Linked DNA regions of Homo sapiens: all the other regions are reported to be linked to region 1. Evidence: microRNA targets listed by miRTarBase, many of them from high-throughput screens and not tested one by one. Region 1 holds a microRNA gene; each other region holds the end of a gene's coding sequence.

The links. Region 1 holds the annotated microRNA hsa-miR-6758-3p (ACUCAUUCUCCUCUGUCCAG, at 1,003-1,022, opposite strand). A microRNA usually pairs through its seed, bases 2 to 8, with sites in the 3' UTR of a target mRNA and lowers its output. Matches are read on the target gene's strand: a 7mer-m8 pairs with bases 2 to 8, a 7mer-A1 pairs with bases 2 to 7 and ends in A, and an 8mer does both.
Region 2: the mRNA of RPF2 is a reported target of hsa-miR-6758-3p. Seed matches in the 3' UTR shown: 7mer-A1 at 1,943-1,949.
Region 3: the mRNA of IARS1 is a reported target of hsa-miR-6758-3p. The part of its 3' UTR that is shown has no 7-base or 8-base seed match.

The regions. Positions count from the first base shown.
Region 1 is chr12:57,510,753-57,513,752 of GRCh38, reverse strand. It overlaps MIR6758 (microRNA 6758), which reads right to left and starts at 1,065; the gene lies at 1,003-1,065. MARS1 (methionyl-tRNA synthetase 1) reads right to left here. Exons shown (of 21, transcript NM_004990.4): 12 at 1,885-2,055; 13 at 1,650-1,745; 14 at 1,400-1,517; 15 at 789-1,002. It also overlaps the pseudogene LOC124903093.
Region 2 is chr6:111,025,428-111,028,427 of GRCh38, forward strand. RPF2 (ribosome production factor 2 homolog) reads left to right here. Exons shown (of 10, transcript NM_032194.3): 10 at 1-2,836. The coding sequence ends at 155. Among named protein-coding and RNA genes, the nearest start is that of RPF2, 45 kb to the left of the region's middle.
Region 3 is chr9:92,208,056-92,211,407 of GRCh38, reverse strand. IARS1 (isoleucyl-tRNA synthetase 1) reads left to right here. Exons shown (of 34, transcript NM_002161.6): 34 at 519-1,201. The coding sequence ends at 601. It overlaps LOC112268048 (a long non-coding RNA gene), which reads right to left and starts at 1,959. Exons shown (of 2, transcript XR_002956919.2): 1 at 1,813-1,959; 2 at 1,250-1,354.

The DNA of each region.
Region 1 (3,000 bases):
GAATCCTAAATTCTGGAGAATACTGCTTTAGATTGCAGAAGAGCTGAGATAGGCACCAATGATAGAATGTGAGCCTAAGGTAACAAAAACTCTGAACTCTGAAGAGTATAGCAGAAGCCTTTTTTTTTTTTTTTTTTTGAGACAGGATCTCCCTCTTTTGCCAAGGCTGGAGTGTAGGGGTACGAGTACTGCTCCACTGCAGCCTCAATCTCCCAAGTTCAAGAGACCATCCCGCCTCAGCATCCTGAGTGGCTGGGACTACAGGTGTGCGCCACCACGCCTGGCTGATTCTTTTTGTAGAGATGGGAGATTCATTATGTTGGTCAGGCAAGTCTTGAACTCCCGGCCTCAAGTGATCCTCCTGCCTCAGCCTCCCAAAGTGCTGGGATTACAAATGTAAGCCACCATGCCCAGCCCACAGAAGCCTCCTACCCCCACACCAAAATAACCCCTTTCTTCAGCCAAACTTTTCAATGATCTGCAGGTGAACTATTTTGCTGGGAGAGAATACATCTTCAATTCTACAAAGAACAGTAATAAGGAAACAATTTACAAAAACCCACTTTATAACCAACTTTGCTAAATCACATCTCTACAGCTAACTGTTCCATCAAGCACACATAGCCTAGTATGTGCTAGGAACAGATCCCAATTAATAGAAATCAACTTTCCACAGTGTCCTCACAGCCTCCTGCCCATTTTCTAGTTCTCTCCACATTCCCATCTCCTGAGGGAAAATGAGCCCCACCCCAGCTCACTGCTAACTCTGACCCCTTACCAAGTCCTACCTGTTGATGAAGTTGCCCAGGTTGTTAAGCAGCTCAGAATTATTCTTCAGCAGCAGGTCCGTCCAGGAGAAAGCACTGTCCTGGCCCTCAGGCCGAATGTACAGCAGATAGAAGCGCCAGATGTCAGCAGGGATCCCCGTGTCCTGGGCCATGTCCCCAAACACTCCCACACCGCGGCTCTTAGAGAATTTCCCATCCTCATAGTTCAGGTACTCTGGACAGAGGAGAATGAGTGAGAACCATCTGCTCACATCACATCCTTCCCCTCTCTAGCCCACTAACTCTTCCTTCTTTCCTCTTTCTAACCTCAACTATGGGTGTCTAGCAACATTTCTCCTTAAGGGGCTGGTATGCTCAGATTTTGGGAGTCCCTTCCTATCCATTCTGGCCCTTTTTTCTCTTTGCTTATATCTACTAAAGAGTTTTAGCTTTAGACTTTTGCTTTCTTCAGGTTCTTGTTCGTTTCTCTAGGTTGAGTTCTCATTTTAATTATTTCCTATTTCAGCTCAACTCCTAACTCAAGATAGCAGCTCTCCAAGATCTTTTTCCAAGTACTGCCTCACCCCTCATTTCCTATGAACACCCCATCAGTAGTCTTCCAGGGTACTTACCTGTAGCAATGAGGTGGCTGACCAAGGTATAGTTATCCTCAGCTCCTAGGGCTGAGCAAGGAAAGACTAAGCTATGGAAAGGAACATTGTCTTTGGCCATGAACTGATACAGGTCCACCTAGGGGAATGTGGTTAGGAGAGATTTCCTGAGACCTCCTTCAAAGGCCCAAGGAAGACCAGACACCCAACCCTAACACCCACACCCTACCGCCTACCCTCCCCATGCACAGCCTAACCAAGAACTGCTCACTTGCTCTGGGTTCTTCCACCATCTCTCCCACTGGTCTGTGTAGTTGGCTGTGATGGACAGATAGCCAATAGTGGCATCAAACCAGACATAGAATACCTGGAGGTCAGAAGGAGGTAAACATGTTAGGGACCAATCCAAAGTCTCAAACTGAAACAAGACATAATCAGCAGTCTACTCTGCTAGCCCAGGGTTTCAACACTAAGGCTGAATGATATGAATAAAAAAGGGTTTTTACCTTGTCTTCAAAACCTTCTAAGGGTACAGGGGTTCCCCATTTGAGGTCTCGGGTTATGCAGCGTGGCTTGAGGCCATCCCGAAGCCAAGAACGGGTGATAAACTGGGCATTGGGTGTCCAGTCACTGCCAGGCAATGTCCTCCCCAACCACTCCTCCAGTCGCTTCTCCAGCTGAGATAACGGAGAAAGAGGGCTGATTTAGGAAAGTCTCATATATGGTTAGCATAAGGATAAACACATATAACCTTTTTGGAGCACAATTTGGCAATATATAACTTTTTTTTTGGAGACAGAGTCTTGCTCTGTTGCCCAGACTAGAGTGCAGTGGTGCAATCATAATCACAGCTCACTGCAGCCTAAACCTCCTGGGCTCAAGCAATCCTCCTACCTCAACCTCCCCAGTAGCTGGGACCACAGGTGCACACCACCATGCCAGACTGTAATTTTTGTAGAAACAGGGTTTTGCCACATTGCCCAGGCTGGTCTTGAACTCCTGAGCTCAAGCAATCTGCCCACCTCAGCCTCCAAAAGCGCTGAGACTACAGTTGTGAGCCACCCTGCCCAGCCTTAACTAGATTTTTAACACACAGCCAGGGGCAGTGGCTTGCGCCTGTAATCCCAGCTACTCCGAAGGCTGACGCAGGAGGATCACTTGAGGGCAGGAGTTCATGACCATCCTGGGCAACACAGCAAAATCCTGTCCCTAAAAAAAATTTTTTTTTTTTTAATTTTTAAAAATATGGAACACTTCACAAGTTTGCATGTCATTCTTGTGCAGAGGATGTGCTAATCTTGTCCATATCAGGGTCTCACTGTCACCCAGGCTGGAGTACAGTGGCACATCATGGCTCACTGCAGCCTCAACCTCCCAGGCTTAAGTGATCCTTCCACCTCAGCCTCCTGAGTAGCTGGCACTACAGGCACGTGCCACCACACCTGGTTAATTTTTGTATTTTTAGTAGAGATGGGTTTCACCAAGTTGCCCACCCTGGTCTCAAACTCCTGGGGTCAAGCAATTCTCCCGCCTCAGCCTCCCAAAGTGTTGGAAGTTGGAATTACAGGCATAAGCCACCGTGCCCAACCAATTTTTTCTTTTTTTAAATACAGACAGGGTCT
Region 2 (3,000 bases), not on the chromosome of region 1:
ATGATACTTTTGGTACAACTTATGGAAGGATTCATATGCAGAAGCAAGACCTAAGCAAACTACAAACCAGGAAAATGAAGGGGTTGAAGAAGCGACCTGCAGAAAGGATAACAGAAGACCACGAGAAAAAGTCAAAAAGAATTAAAAAAAATTGATGGAACTTAGCCAGCCACTACTGTTTCATTGTGTTCTACTTAAGAGAATTATCAAGCGTCAATCCATTCAGAGTTTCTTATAAGATCTTATTATATATTTTTATAACATGATAATTTTACGATATATTATTATGAACAGTAATATACTAGTATTAAGTGTAAAGTAAGCCTTTTATTTGAGACATTACACCCTGGTGTGCCATTTTCTCTTGTGATATCCCCTGCCCTCCACAAATTCTTCTTTCTCATTGGGTGGATGGATGGGTGAGGAGGGATCTCCATAACCATTGGGATTTTTTTGAATTTCTGGCCTTAGCTAAAGAAAGCCACAGAAAGCCGGACCCGCAGGAGCTGTGTAAACAATCTCAGTATGAATTACCTGGAAAGTTAACCTCCTCTCCCAACATGGATCTACATTCTGATTTTTATTTTCTACTTTTATTTTGCCTGAAATCCTACTCGTTGACATTTGAGATTTTAAGCTTTGTGGCTGAAAATATATAGATCTCTGAGAGGGATGTCTGCTATCTGATTATTGATAAATTACACTACTGTTGATTGTTTTAAGAGACTCTACTACTAAGTAGAGCCCACCCCGCTTCTCTGAGACGAAACCTGTGTTTTTTGGTTGGTTTGTTTTTAAGAGATGGGGTCTTGTTCTGTCACCTAGGGTGGAGTGCAGTGGCACAATCACAGCTCACTGCAGCCCTGAACTCCTGGGCTCAAGTAATCCTCCTGCCTGAGCCTCTTACGTAGCTGGGATTACAGGCATGAGCCACTGAGCCCTACTTTTTTTTTTTAAAGCAATGAGGTCTTGCTGTGTTGCCCAGGCTGGACTCAAATTCCTGGGCTCAAGTGATCCTCCCACTTCACCTTCCTGAGCAGCCGGAACTACAGATGTTGGTCCACTGCACCTGGCAGAAAAGAAGTTTTGATAGGGGCAGAAATGAAAAAGGAGAAAACAGGTGAGTTTTAAGGTGCAGGGCACTTTAGGGTACTGGGTAGCCCTAGGTAGCTAAAGGTTGCATGAAGGCCCTGGGCGTTTGCAGATGGTGTAGAAGCCAGCCAAAGCCTAACTACTTGTTTTGAAAGTTTCTTGAAGACAGGCCTTGTGCCTAGGAAAACAGAAGCTTTCTTCTTCCTTCTACTAGTATTGCATACTTGTTTTTCTGGAATAGGGTGTTAAGTTCCTTGATTCAGTCCTTGACAAGGAATCTCCTTTATACAAGTGCCAGTAATGTTGTAAAGGTACAGACATACGCAAATCATAATTTGTTACATGAAGTACCAGTGCTTTCTTTTTTGTTGTTTTTTGAGACAGAGTCTCGCTCTGTCGCTCAGGCTGGAGTGCAGTGGCGCGATTTCAGTTCACTGCAACCTCCACCTCCCAGGTTCAAGCATTCTTCTGCCTCAGCCTCCCGAGTAGCTGGGATTACAGGCACCCACCACCACGCCTGGCTGATTTTTTGTAGAGACAGGGTTTCACTTCAATTCCATGTTAGAGAGCTCCGTGCCTGTGTATACATGCCTTTATGTAAGCTTGCTCAGCTACAGATCAACAATGCTGGCACTAAGCAAAAGTTCGAGCCTCAGCTTTACCTTCTACCCTTTCCCTTCTCTTTTGAATCCATTCCTTAGCTTTCCCTAGTCCTCTCCGGATAGCTGTTACTCTCCTCTTGCCAGAAAAATGAAGGAGCTGGTATCATTTATACTTTTTGTTTGATTATACGTTTAACCAAAGACCATACAGTCTCGTACCTGAATCAGACATTTGCACTTTATATCTAAATGAGAAGAAGGGGCTCAGATAAGTCGTTTGCTGCCATCTGGAGGTAGATGGACAATAGCTGAGAAGGGGAGCCATGAAAAGAACATCAGGAGTGATGGACGCATAGTCCTTCCCCAAAGCCTCGCTCATCACTGGTAGGAGGCAAAGCAGTGGGTCCTCCTCACCAGCCGCTTACGGGACCCTGCCATGCCTGGACCCCTCTATCAGGAAGACCTACCCCAGCACTACTGGAAAATCAGCCAATCTTAACCCAAAGATGGCCATGATTTCTGTATGTGAGACGTCTTAAGGGTGTTTTTGTTTGTTTTAATCAGCCCTCTTGTTTGAGATTTGGCAATACATTTCTGTTTTCTAGGTAATTTCTGTGTCTGATGGTAGAGGATCTAATAAGTATTGGAATGCTTCCTATTTGCTGATAGAAGTACCAAATAGTATTATTGAAGTCTAACAAAGACTTTTTGTTGAGAACACCTTGTAGTGTTGTACTATCTGGAACTCTTGAGCTGCCATTTATATCACTTTTTGTGGAGAGCACATCTTGATTTTCAGTTGTCCTTACTTTAGAATACAACACACATAAATTGGAGACTATGTATTCATTTCAATGGAGGTGGTAAATTGCCTGTTTTAAGTTTTACTTAATGTTGGGTTTTGGTAGATGAGGAAAGCATTTTGGTTATTTGTTTTGTTTTAAATACCAAATTTCTTATATTTTTTCTGGAATATTAATACTATTACCAAGCTATTATTTCATGGAATTTGGGTTTCTTTTTTTTTGTTTTTTTAAAATTAAGTGCTGTTTGTTTTCTTGGTTATTGAACATAATCCAAAGTAGAGATGTTATTACTCAATTCAAGAAAAGAAAGGGCTAATAAAACTTAACTTCAAGTCAGTTTTCATTTATCTGATTAGCTACTTACATGATCTCTCCTTCCTTTCCTTTTTATGTCTAGCTACTTAAGGCTAAAAATGGAAGGCTTCAAAATGGAAGAAGTTAAAACTACTAAACCCATTGCTAAGATCCGAACAACAAAGGAAGGTTTGCTTTTATTGAAT
Region 3 (3,352 bases), not on the chromosome of region 1:
AATTAGGGTAGGGAAAGGATACACGTTAGAACCAGCGAGAGTGAGAGAGAGAGAGAGACCCTGGAGTCATGGATAATGTTTCTTCCTCTCATCCCTTACATCTGACAACACAGAGACTATATTACCAACCAGGGAAGCTCACTCGAGCCTTGGTGTCCAGTTTCTGTTGAGGTTTCATTCTGTAGGCATGATTGCTGTCTTTCTCAACTGATATACCATGTGACCCAAAGTCCCCATCCTAAATCATATACTTGGTCTTTCTGTCCTGGCCAGCACTACCCTGAATTGTCTCATTAGCAACAACTGTCAGGTTTGGTGAACATACCCACCATGAGAAACAAAGATTCCTACCAGGAAATTCCAAGGATTTAGAGGTTCACCTCAGGAGCTGGGACAAAAGGCAGAACTCTTAGGATAAGGCCAAATTCCTTACTACACAAGCAGTTAACATTTTTTTAAATATTCACCCCCAATAGGTAAAATACTGATTTTTTTTCAACTTTTTCTTTCCATTCTAGAAATTACAGAAGACATCCCCGTGAAGACTTTGAATATGAAGACTGTGTATGTTTCTGTGTTACCAACAACAGCAGACTTCTAGCATGTACTTATCAATGTTGTTCGGTCAGCCCTTCCCTAATTACACCTATCCCCTACACATACATGCACATAGACACACACATGAACACACTGAAGATATTTCCTTCAGGTGTGTGTAAAATATGCTGCTTGGATTGAAATTCAAATGGGATTGATTAGTCAAGTAACTTGAGACCTCACAGTAATCTTCACACTTAACCTTAGACACCTATGCAGTCATGTTGGGAGCAGGTTACAATGTTACTTCAGCCCACAGTTTATTTCTATACTTGAGTTCTTAAGTACAGAAGATAGAAGTGATTTAAATGGCATAGTATATATATCATTTTCTGGCCTTTTAAAATTTATTTGAGACCTCTTGATGAAATGGACATATTATATATTTCTGCCACCTGGATTTTCCTGGATAATTTGATGGAATATTTTAAGTTTCAGTAAATCAGAACAATAAACAAACTCAGATATAAATGTGTTGAAAGTAATTCATTCTCCCATAGATAAATGAAACTTGAAATGTGTAAACTTTGAAGAACATAAAAACTTCATGGTGGTTTCTTATTAAGACAGTGGACTAGACATCTAATAAAACTTCTTTCCAAAATCCCAGGTGATAATTTGAGTCCTCAGAGAAGCAGATGACATGACAAAGTTAGATGTGCAAGAATTTATTAGAGGAAACATAAATGGAGGATAAACGGGAGATGGAGCAAGCGTAGGTCGAGAGAGCCTTCAGACTGCAGTGTGGGTCTGACACCTGTAAAAAGAGAAAATGAAGATTGATTAGCAAAAACTTAGACTGCAGTGCAACTCTAAGATGAAGTCTTGGTCAGGCCAATGGAGAGTTCCCAAGCAAGGATTCCTTTTAGTAGAGTTCAGAATTGGGCAGAAATAGCCTGGCTTTGTTTCTCTGACTTCCTCAAGTCAGTTTCTGGGAGGAGACCAAGGGGAGCGTGGCCTTCGCACAAATGCCTTGATGGATCTGAAAGTACCAACTACACTCCTCATGTCAGATTCTTTTGAAGGGAGATCTGAATGATACATCCCTATGGCTACTACAACAGATGCATTCACACAAAAACCCACAAGTTGGAGAAAATAGAGGAAACAACCAGAACTTGGGGAATTGGAAAGCAGATAGACGGTGTTAACTAACTTGGTAGACCCAGGAAACCCCAATTCTAAATCAATGGAGGAACTGATAAACTTACTTACATTTCAGAATTCACAGCACCAGTTAACCTCTGGGATGAAAGGTAGAAGAGGCACAGAAATAGGGACGATTGCGTGAACACTGGGAAGCCTTATAGCTTCTCCCATTTCCACGTTGCTAAGCAACTTTATTCCCCCCACAGTTGGCATCTGGAAGGTAAAAAGTGACTGGTTGGTAGAAGTCGGAGTGAATGGAAGACAAGAGTACTTGTAAGCCTGGAGGATTCCTAAAACCAACCCTCAGCTTAGATAATTTGCTAGAAAGACTCAGAACTCAATGAAAGCTATTGTATTCGTGGTTACAGTTAATGACAGGGAAATGTTAAAGATCAAAATCAGCCAAAGGAAGAGGAGAGGGCAGAGCCCGGGAGAAGTACCAAACACAGCTCTTGTCCTGTCTCTCTGAAGTCAGCAAGCATTACTCTACTGGCATCAGTGTGTGACAGTATGCACAGAGTATTGCCAGCCAGGGAAGCTCACCCAAGCCTTGGAACCCAGAGTGTTTACTGAGGCTGCTTTACATATCCATGATTGATTGTCCATGTGGTTAATCGCAGTCTCTAGGTCAGCTGCTCGTGCATGACCCAAAACCTCCACCCTAAATCACATTGTTGGTATTTCTGATGTGTTGTACACCCCCCCCACCATAAGACTGTATAGATTTGTCCCACCCCAGCCATAAATCATACTGTCAAGGCTATTCAGTATGATTCAAGATCCCCAGGTAAACAGAGGCATTCCTATGTAGCATAACATCCAAGGGCAAGGCCAAATTCCTTTATACAGAGTACTGTACTGGAAACAAGATTAAGTGGCTTTATGTATACTGTCCACTATACCAAAGAAGAATATAAAAGATTGACACCAAGTATTGGCTGGGAAAAAGGCTCACTCTGAACAATTAACTTTGAAGTTGAGAAGTCCATACTCAGGTCAGTGTTTTAGCCCCCAACTCTTATTCATGAGACTTCCATCTAGAATTACGAGAGATCTAGTGAAAGCCTCTAATCCAAAACCAAAAGAGAGTACCAAAACAACTTTGAGGAATCAAGCAATGCAGTGAGAAGAAAATTCCCCCTGCCAAATGTGTTAATATCCTTAGAGTTATAAGATACTACATCTGTAAAATAACGATGCTACAAAACATGAAAATCTCAAGAGGAGAAAAAAATGTTCCTGTTAATATAAGACTTAATAGAAAAGAAAAAAAATCATTGGAAAATAGTGTGAAATTTTCCAGACACTAGATAGATTAACAATAAATATTTAAGGTGGGAGAAAAGAGATATTATACATAAGTTAGAGTCCAGGAGTTCCAGTATCCAAATTGTAGGAATTCCAGAAAGAAGAAAAATAAGGTCAGAAAATTATAATTAATGTAAACAAATTTTGCAGAACCTACAGCCAGATTGAAAGATATCTTTGGCCGAACACGGTGGCTCATGCCTGTAATCCCAGCACTTTGGGAGGCCGAGGTGGACGGATCACGAGGACAGGAGATCAAGACCATCCTGGCTAACATGGTGAAACCTTGTCTCTACTA